2 linked regions of the Homo sapiens genome follow. The protein of the gene in region 1 interacts with the protein of each later gene in a biochemical or structural test. Each region holds a gene or a part of one and is shown in the gene's direction. Other genes may lie near its edges.

Evidence for each region. Proteins that work in one complex are often made in the same cells at the same time.
Region 2: the proteins of FOSL1 (region 1) and USF1 form a complex in vitro, tested with the Homo sapiens proteins (one study listed by BioGRID).

What each region holds. Positions count from the first base shown.
Region 1 is NC_000011.10:65,898,365-65,902,113, reverse strand, and holds the start of FOSL1 (fos-related antigen 1), read left to right. Parts: upstream 1-1,725; 5' UTR 1,726-1,774; coding exon 1,775-1,873; intron 1,874-3,749.
Region 2 is NC_000001.11:161,039,321-161,043,069, reverse strand, and holds part of USF1 (upstream stimulatory factor 1), read left to right. Parts: intron 1-187; coding exon 188-237; intron 238-397; exon of another isoform or gene 398-399; coding exon 400-515; intron 516-852; coding exon 853-954; intron 955-1,223; coding exon 1,224-1,419; intron 1,420-1,658; coding exon 1,659-1,746; intron 1,747-2,197; coding exon 2,198-2,256; intron 2,257-2,399; coding exon 2,400-2,494; intron 2,495-2,739; coding exon 2,740-2,868; intron 2,869-3,060; coding exon 3,061-3,150; 3' UTR 3,151-3,749.

The sequences.
Region 1 (3,749 bases):
TCTGGGACTAGAACCCCAGGGGCAATCTGGACTTCCTGGCTCTAAGTCCTGAGTGCACCCACAGGCTTCTGGCCTGTGTTCCCAAGGAAAGTAGCCCAGAGGGCAAAGCTAGAGCTGATGAAATGGAAGGACCGATGGAGAAGCAGGAGAGCCCAGCCCTCTCTTGATCTATTTACTTTGAGTCTTGCTCTGTCCCCCAGGCTGGACTGCAGTGGCGCAGTCACAGCTCACCGCAGCCTCAACCTCCCTGGCTTAAGCCATCCTCCCGCCTCAGCCTCCAGAACAGCTGGGACCACAAGGCAGGCGTACCACCATGTCCAGAAAATTTTATAATTTTTTGTAGAGATGGGGTCTCAAATGGTTCTTTCTGCCTTGGCCTTCCAAAGTGCTAGGATTACAAGCATGAGCCACCACACCTGGCCCCAGCCCTCTTTCTGTAGTCGTGTGACAACTGACAGCTCAGTACTCCATCTGGGCCTCAGTTTCCTCATCTATGATGGAAGTAATCAGAGAGAAGCTTTGGGATGGTGCCCAGCACTAACATTCTGGATGTGCGACAAGGTGTCTGTGAAGGTGTAAGGGCTTTGAAAATCTTGGCTGAGCCTGGGCTTGGAGTGCCCACGGCTGTGACTTGGCAACCTGTGCCAGCTACTCACTTAGCGACTTCAAGCAATTCATTTCAGCATCTCCCAGCCTCAGTTTCCCCATCTGTAAAACAGAGATGAGGATGATACCTGCCTCACATTCACTCACCTTTGACATACTCTCCAAACAAGTCTGGTGGCCACAAGCCTCCGAAAGGCACTGACCGTAATGAAGATGGCGTTTATCAGACCTCAGGACACCTGTAGTGGCCCTGAATTAAAACTCGTTATAGCTCCTGAAATTATCCTGAGTAATACTATTATATTGCATTTTATGTGGGGTTAGTTCAAAGCATTACCTTATCGCAAACATTTAAAATATACCACCCAGCCTGGGCAATACGGCGAGACCCAATCCCTACAAAAAACACAAAAATTACCTGGGTGTGGTGACGCGCGCCTGTAGTCCCACTTACTTGGAGGGGGCGCTGAGGCAGGAGAATCCCTTTAGCTCAGGAAGTTGAGCCTGCAGTGCGCCGAGATCGAGCCACTGCACTCCAGCCTGGGTGACAGAGACCCGGTCTCAAAAATATAAAGTAAAATAAAATATGCCACCATTTTTGTAACCCTGGTTTGTCATTTATTCACTTTTCATATACTCGAAGCCTTAAAACAAGGCCAGTGGAAAGACCTCACTCCACGAAGCTTTGGGTGGCGGTTGGCGTGGCTCCTAGAGATGTGATTCTTTCGTGCTATTTTGTGGGAGCAGAAACGGAGGTTAGCCCAGGCCTCGAGAGGGCTGGGGCGGGGCGCGGGCTCTGGCAGGTGCGTCAGTCCGCAGGGGAACCCGGGGCTCCACCTGGGCGCGGCGAGGAAGTTACACCATGTATGGGCAGCTACGTCAGGGGGGCGGGCCCGCAGCCTCCGGGGAACGCCGAGCCGGGCCCATCCCGGTGAAAAGGCTGCAGCCGGACTTGGGGAGGCGTCGCCAAGTTCGGGACCGACGGGCCAAGGCGGCGCGTCTCGGGGGTGGAGCCTGGAGGTGACCGCGCCGCTGCAACGCCCCCACCCCCCGCGGTCGCAGTGGTTCAGCCCGAGAACTTTTCATTCATAAAAAGAAAAGACTCCGCACGGCGCGGGTGAGTCAGAACCCAGCAGCCGTGTACCCCGCAGAGCCGCCAGCCCCGGGCATGTTCCGAGACTTCGGGGAACCCGGCCCGAGCTCCGGGAACGGCGGCGGGTACGGCGGCCCCGCGCAGCCCCCGGCCGCAGCGCAGGCAGCCCAGCAGGTGAGTGGGGCCCGACGCCGGTGGTCCCACGGGAGGACCGCGCGTGGGAGGCCGGGGTCAACTCCCGCACGCTCCGGGACTGGAGCGGGGAACCGGAGTCGGGGCCGGGCTGGGGGCTGGGGCGAGGATCCTGCCCCTCGCCGTCCGGGGCCAGTTGCCCCCACCGCGCAGCGGGCAGCAGAGACCCGCGAACTCCCCTTCTCCCAGCCGCCCCCTTCTCCCTCGCCGTCCGCGTCCGTCCCTCCGTCTCCGTGCCCGCTTTCTCTCCTCCTGCCCACCTCTGACTTCTGCGTCCACCCTGCTTCAGAAGGGGCGTGGGCGCCTAGGGTGGTCGCCTCGAAGGCTAGGAGGGTCTCTCCGCTTCGGGCTGAATTCCTGGGATCTGGAGTCTGGGCTGGGGTGAGGGTCCCCACACGGGAGGGAGGCGGGATCCGTCGGGAGAGCAGCTGGGCCAGGGTGGGAGTCCCGGCCCGGTCTGCGACCCTCCGCGTGTCCGTCCGTCTGTCTGTCCTTCGCCCCTCCGTCGCCAAGTCCCTATCGTTTCTCGGCCTGGGGAGTCCAGGGGGGTCCGGGCAGTGGAACCTGCCAGGTCCCCGGAGACCGGCCCTCGATCCCTTTGCCGAATGCGGCGAATAGAGACCTCGAGGTTCCGGGACGTGCGCGGGGTCAGGCTGCGGGCGACTCTCGCGACCCCACTCTCAGCCCCTAACGGCGCCCGCTGCCCGCCGGGGGGCACCCGGGAGGCTGCAGGTGCCCATTTCCTGTCGAGGGGCTGCGAGCACGTGTCGACAGGGGAGGGAAGGAGGGGCGTCCGTTCCGCCGAGTCACGGCGGCCGAGTCACGGCGGCTGAGTCACCCGGGGCGTCCCTCCCTTCCTGGCCTGGAGCGGCCCGGGCCCGGGAGTGGGAGATGCCGCCGGCGGTGCCTCGGACCCGGAACTGGGGTCACTGGGACGCCGGGCCCGCAGCGCTTGGGCTCGGGCTACCGCTGTCGGGACTTGCCTGGGCTTGTGGGCGCTTCCCGGACGATTGGGCGCCCACACCCAGGGCCCAGCGGCAGAGCTAGAACCCACTTCTCCCAGAACACTGAGCCCCATCCCAACCCACTCCTCAGATAGCTGGCTGATAGAATGGGAACAGGGACGTTGTGCTGGGCGCTTGCTACATCATTTACCATATTTCACGGAATCGAAGACCTCATCGATTGAAAAAAAAACCCACTATAACTTTATGCCACTAATTTTCTTTCCTTCTCTTTCTTTTCTTTTTTTTTTTTTTTCTGAGACAGGGTCTCCCTCTGTTGCCCAGACTATAGAGCAGTGGTGCAATCACAGCTCACTGCAGCCTCAGCCTCCTGGGCTCAAGCAATCCTACTGAGATCCTAGCTGGGAAGCGACCTGGCCACAGGCACGCACCACCACACCCAACTAATTTTTTAATTTTTTTGTAGAAATGAAGTCTCACTGTGTTGCCCGGTGTGACCTCAAACTCCTGAGCTCAAGTGATCCTTCTACCTCAGCCTCCCAAAGTGCTGGGTATGAGCCACCATGCCTAGTCCACTAAAATTTTTTAAATTGCCAATTAAACTATGATTTCAGAGCTATTAAAGGGTACTTCTTAACATCAGTGAAATCCTGTAATCCTCACCTGTAACAATATTAAAAATGAGGAAACTGAGGCACATGGAGGTTAAATAACTTGCCCATGGTCACACAGCCAGTAAGTAGCTGAGAGCTGAGATTAGAATTGGGACAGCCTGCCATGCCAGGTGGCTAAAGCCTGTCATCTCAACACTTTGGGAGGCTGAGGTGGGTGGACTGCTTCAGCTCAGGAATTTGAGACCACCCTGGGCAACCTAGTGAGACCCTGTCTCTACA
Region 2 (3,749 bases), on another chromosome or scaffold:
AGATTACATGTAATGTACTTAGCTTAGTGCTTATGTACATAGTAAACAGTAAACACTAGTTGTTATTCTAACCTAACCCAGCTTCTGTTGGGAATGCCAATGAGTTTGCAGCCATATGTTACTGGGCCAGTGAGCTTCTCATTGACTTCTTCTCATACTCTTCCTTTTGTCCTTTCACCACAAACAGGCAGCAGAAAACAGCTGAAACGGAAGAGGGGACAGTGCAGATTCAGGAAGGTGAGTGCTAGAAACAGAACCAAGACTAAGAACCCATCATGGCCTCCCTTCCTTCCCCACCAGACCATCTCCTGTGCATCCTCCTCCTTCCGTGACATGCAAATGGAACGGGGGTAGAAAGGCAGTTAACTCACAGACTTTTCCTTTGTTCTTTTAATTCAGGTGCAGTGGCTACTGGGGAAGACCCAACCAGTGTGGCTATTGCCAGCATCCAGTCAGCTGCCACCTTCCCTGACCCCAACGTCAAGTACGTCTTCCGAACTGAGAATGGGGGCCAGGTAAGGGAGGGGGCCAGGTGGCTGCAGGTGTTATCTGGGGTTGGGATTGAGGGAGGTAATTGAACATGTCTTGGGGAGACCTGGCTTGGAGGATGAGTTGAAAGAGTGGACTGTTGCAGGGGAGGGAGGTGCTAATACTGGAGTAGAGACTGGTGTGAGGTTAGATGTATGCTGAAACCTCTGTGTGGGGAAAGAAGGGAGAATGGCTGAATCCATGTCTCTGAAGGACTTTGTTTTGGGGCCCTATCCAAGGGAAGCTTTATGAGGGGCCCTAGGATTCCCAACACTTAATCTTTTCTTCTCTCTTCACTCCCTCTGCCTTCCTCTACACTTCTAGGTGATGTACAGGGTGATCCAGGTGTCTGAGGGGCAGCTGGATGGCCAAACTGAGGGAACTGGCGCCATCAGTGGCTACCCTGCCACTCAATCCATGACCCAGGTACAGGGTATGGGCTGGGGAGGTCACTAGAGTTCTGAGAAGTAAGATGAAGAAGGGAATCAGTAGGATGGGGGTGAAGCTAGGAACAGTGAGGCATCTAAGGCTGCCTTGTCCCAAAGCACTAGGCTCTCCTTTTCTGGATGTTTCTCTCTCTCTCTCTCTCTCTCTCCACCCTACCTACCACCCCAACGGATAGAAGCTGCAGAGTGGTGTAGTGGGAAGAAGTTTTTGACTGTTACCAGAATCAGTTTTCTTGCTCCCCTTCCCAGGCGGTGATCCAGGGTGCTTTCACCAGTGATGATGCAGTTGACACGGAGGGGACAGCTGCTGAGACGCACTATACTTACTTCCCCAGCACGGCAGTGGGAGATGGGGCAGGGGGTACCACATCGGGGAGTACAGCTGCTGTTGTTACTACCCAGGGCTCAGAGGCACTGCTGGGGCAGGCGACCCCTCCTGGCACTGGTGAGATATTGCATGAGGATGCTGGCTGAAAGGGCTAGAATAGGCTGTGGGACATGACTGGTAGGCAGTGAGCCTTCACTCATGACTCTTAGTGATCATTAAGACCTGGACAGGCAGTGAGTCTGGGGCTGCTCTTCTATTAGCATGTTCTTTTTAGAGGAGGGGACCAGGGTCTTCACCTCAGGGCTTGGTGAGGTTCCTACCCATGTCCTGACAGAACCTACCCTGCATCTTCACAGGTCAATTCTTTGTGATGATGTCACCACAAGAAGTACTGCAGGGAGGAAGCCAGCGCTCAATTGCCCCTAGGACTCACCCTTATTCCCCGTGAGTGACCCTTGTTTCTTCTCAGATTCCGTAAGTGGTTTTTTTTTTTTTTTTTTTTTTTTGAGACAGAGTCTTGCTCTGTCACCCAGGCTGGAGTGCAGTGGCATGATCTCAGCTCACTGCAACCTCTGCTTCCAGGGTTCAAGCGTTTCTCATGCCTCAGCCTCCTGAGTAGCTGGAACTACAGACATGTACCACCACCCCTGGCTAATTTTTGTATCTTTAGTAGAGACAGGGTTTCACCATGTTGGCCAGGCTGGTCTCGAACTCCTGACCTCAAGTGATCCGCCTGCCTCGGCCTCCCAAAGTGCTGGGATTACAGGTGTGAGACACCACACCTAGCTACCATAAGTGGTCCTAATACCTGCTAAATCTTGTATAATTCCTTAACCCCAAACTTCAATCATGTATTTTGTCTTCTTACTCTGGCCACCCTGGGCTCTGTTGTCAGGAAGTCAGAAGCTCCCCGGACGACTCGGGATGAGAAACGCAGGGCTCAGCATAATGAAGGTAGGTATGATCTGGGTGGAGCTAGAAGCTGTCTGGTGTGATCTCAGCAGTGATGTCTGAGGGGAGGAGGGATTAGGTAATTTTACCCTGGGACTTGTGGCGAGTTTTCACTGAGTCACCTTGTCCTCCACTTTGCCCCACAGTGGAGCGTCGCCGCCGAGACAAGATCAACAACTGGATCGTGCAGCTCTCCAAGATAATCCCAGACTGCTCTATGGAGAGCACCAAGTCTGGCCAGGTCATGGAAAGACCCTGGTAGTGGGCAGGATGCCTGAATTCTGCCTCCTGGTATTGTTTCCAGAAATGGTAGAGAGAGGGGCACACATGACAGTAGTCTTATCTCTCCCTGAGGTTCCTGTATCCCTGGGAGATATTATACCACCTTCCTTAGATGAAAATGAGGTCCAAAGTGTGAACCTACTTTTGGAAAGCAAGCTGGGTATCTGAAATCCTAGTTCTCATTTTGTTGACCTTATCTTGCAGAGTAAAGGTGGGATTCTATCCAAAGCTTGTGATTATATCCAGGAGCTTCGGCAGAGTAACCACCGCTTGTCTGAAGAACTGCAGGGACTTGACCAACTGCAGCTGGACAATGACGTGCTTCGACAACAGGTCAGACTCCTACCCCCAGTGCAGCCCTTCTCAGTTCTGCTAGCCACTGACCCAGTTTGACACCCTCTACTTTGTTCTCCATGGAGAAGGCTTCATCTTTTCCCCCTCACCAGTGGATGTCTGAATACATTCAGGGGCTTGGAAGTGCCAGCTTTACTACCCATTCCCTTTACTGCCTCCTTCCCATGTCAGGTGGAAGATCTTAAAAACAAGAATCTGCTGCTTCGAGCTCAGTTGCGGCACCACGGATTAGAGGTCGTCATCAAGAATGACAGCAACTAACTATGGGGATTCAGGGGCTTTGGGCCCAAGAACTGCAGATAGCCCAGGAGCAACAGCCTAATCCCGTGCCCCTTTCCTTCACTGCCCCACTTCTGGCATGGGACAGGGGGAAGTTCAGAAGGTGTGTCCTTGAACTGAGGCCCTGTGATATGGCGGCCTGCAGTGGTGTGAAACACACAATGTGGACGTGCACTGACAGCCTTGCCCACCCCCACCATGCAGCCCCTGGGCCCTTGTGCTCCTCTCGCACAATGCATGTGCTGTCTCCATGCTGGATACTGGACACACTAAACTCTGGGGCTTGTCCTGTGCTTGCTTAGAGTGCCCAGCAGAGGTTTGCTGACAGGTGATGCTCTGGCTTGCCCCAGGACTCTGGCACTTCCATTGGTTCTTCCTTTCCCTGGAGCTGAGGTTTAGATGTGCAACCTGTGGCTCAGGGGAGCAAGCTTACACAAGAAGTGAGGGAAGGATGTTTAGCAGTGGCTGGTGCCCATGAAGAGGAGATTGGCCAGTGAGAAGCTGAGGCCTATGCAGACATCTCTGGAGCCAGAGAGAACAACAGGCAGGGGCCCACTTGGGGCCTTCCCCCTTGTGGGGGT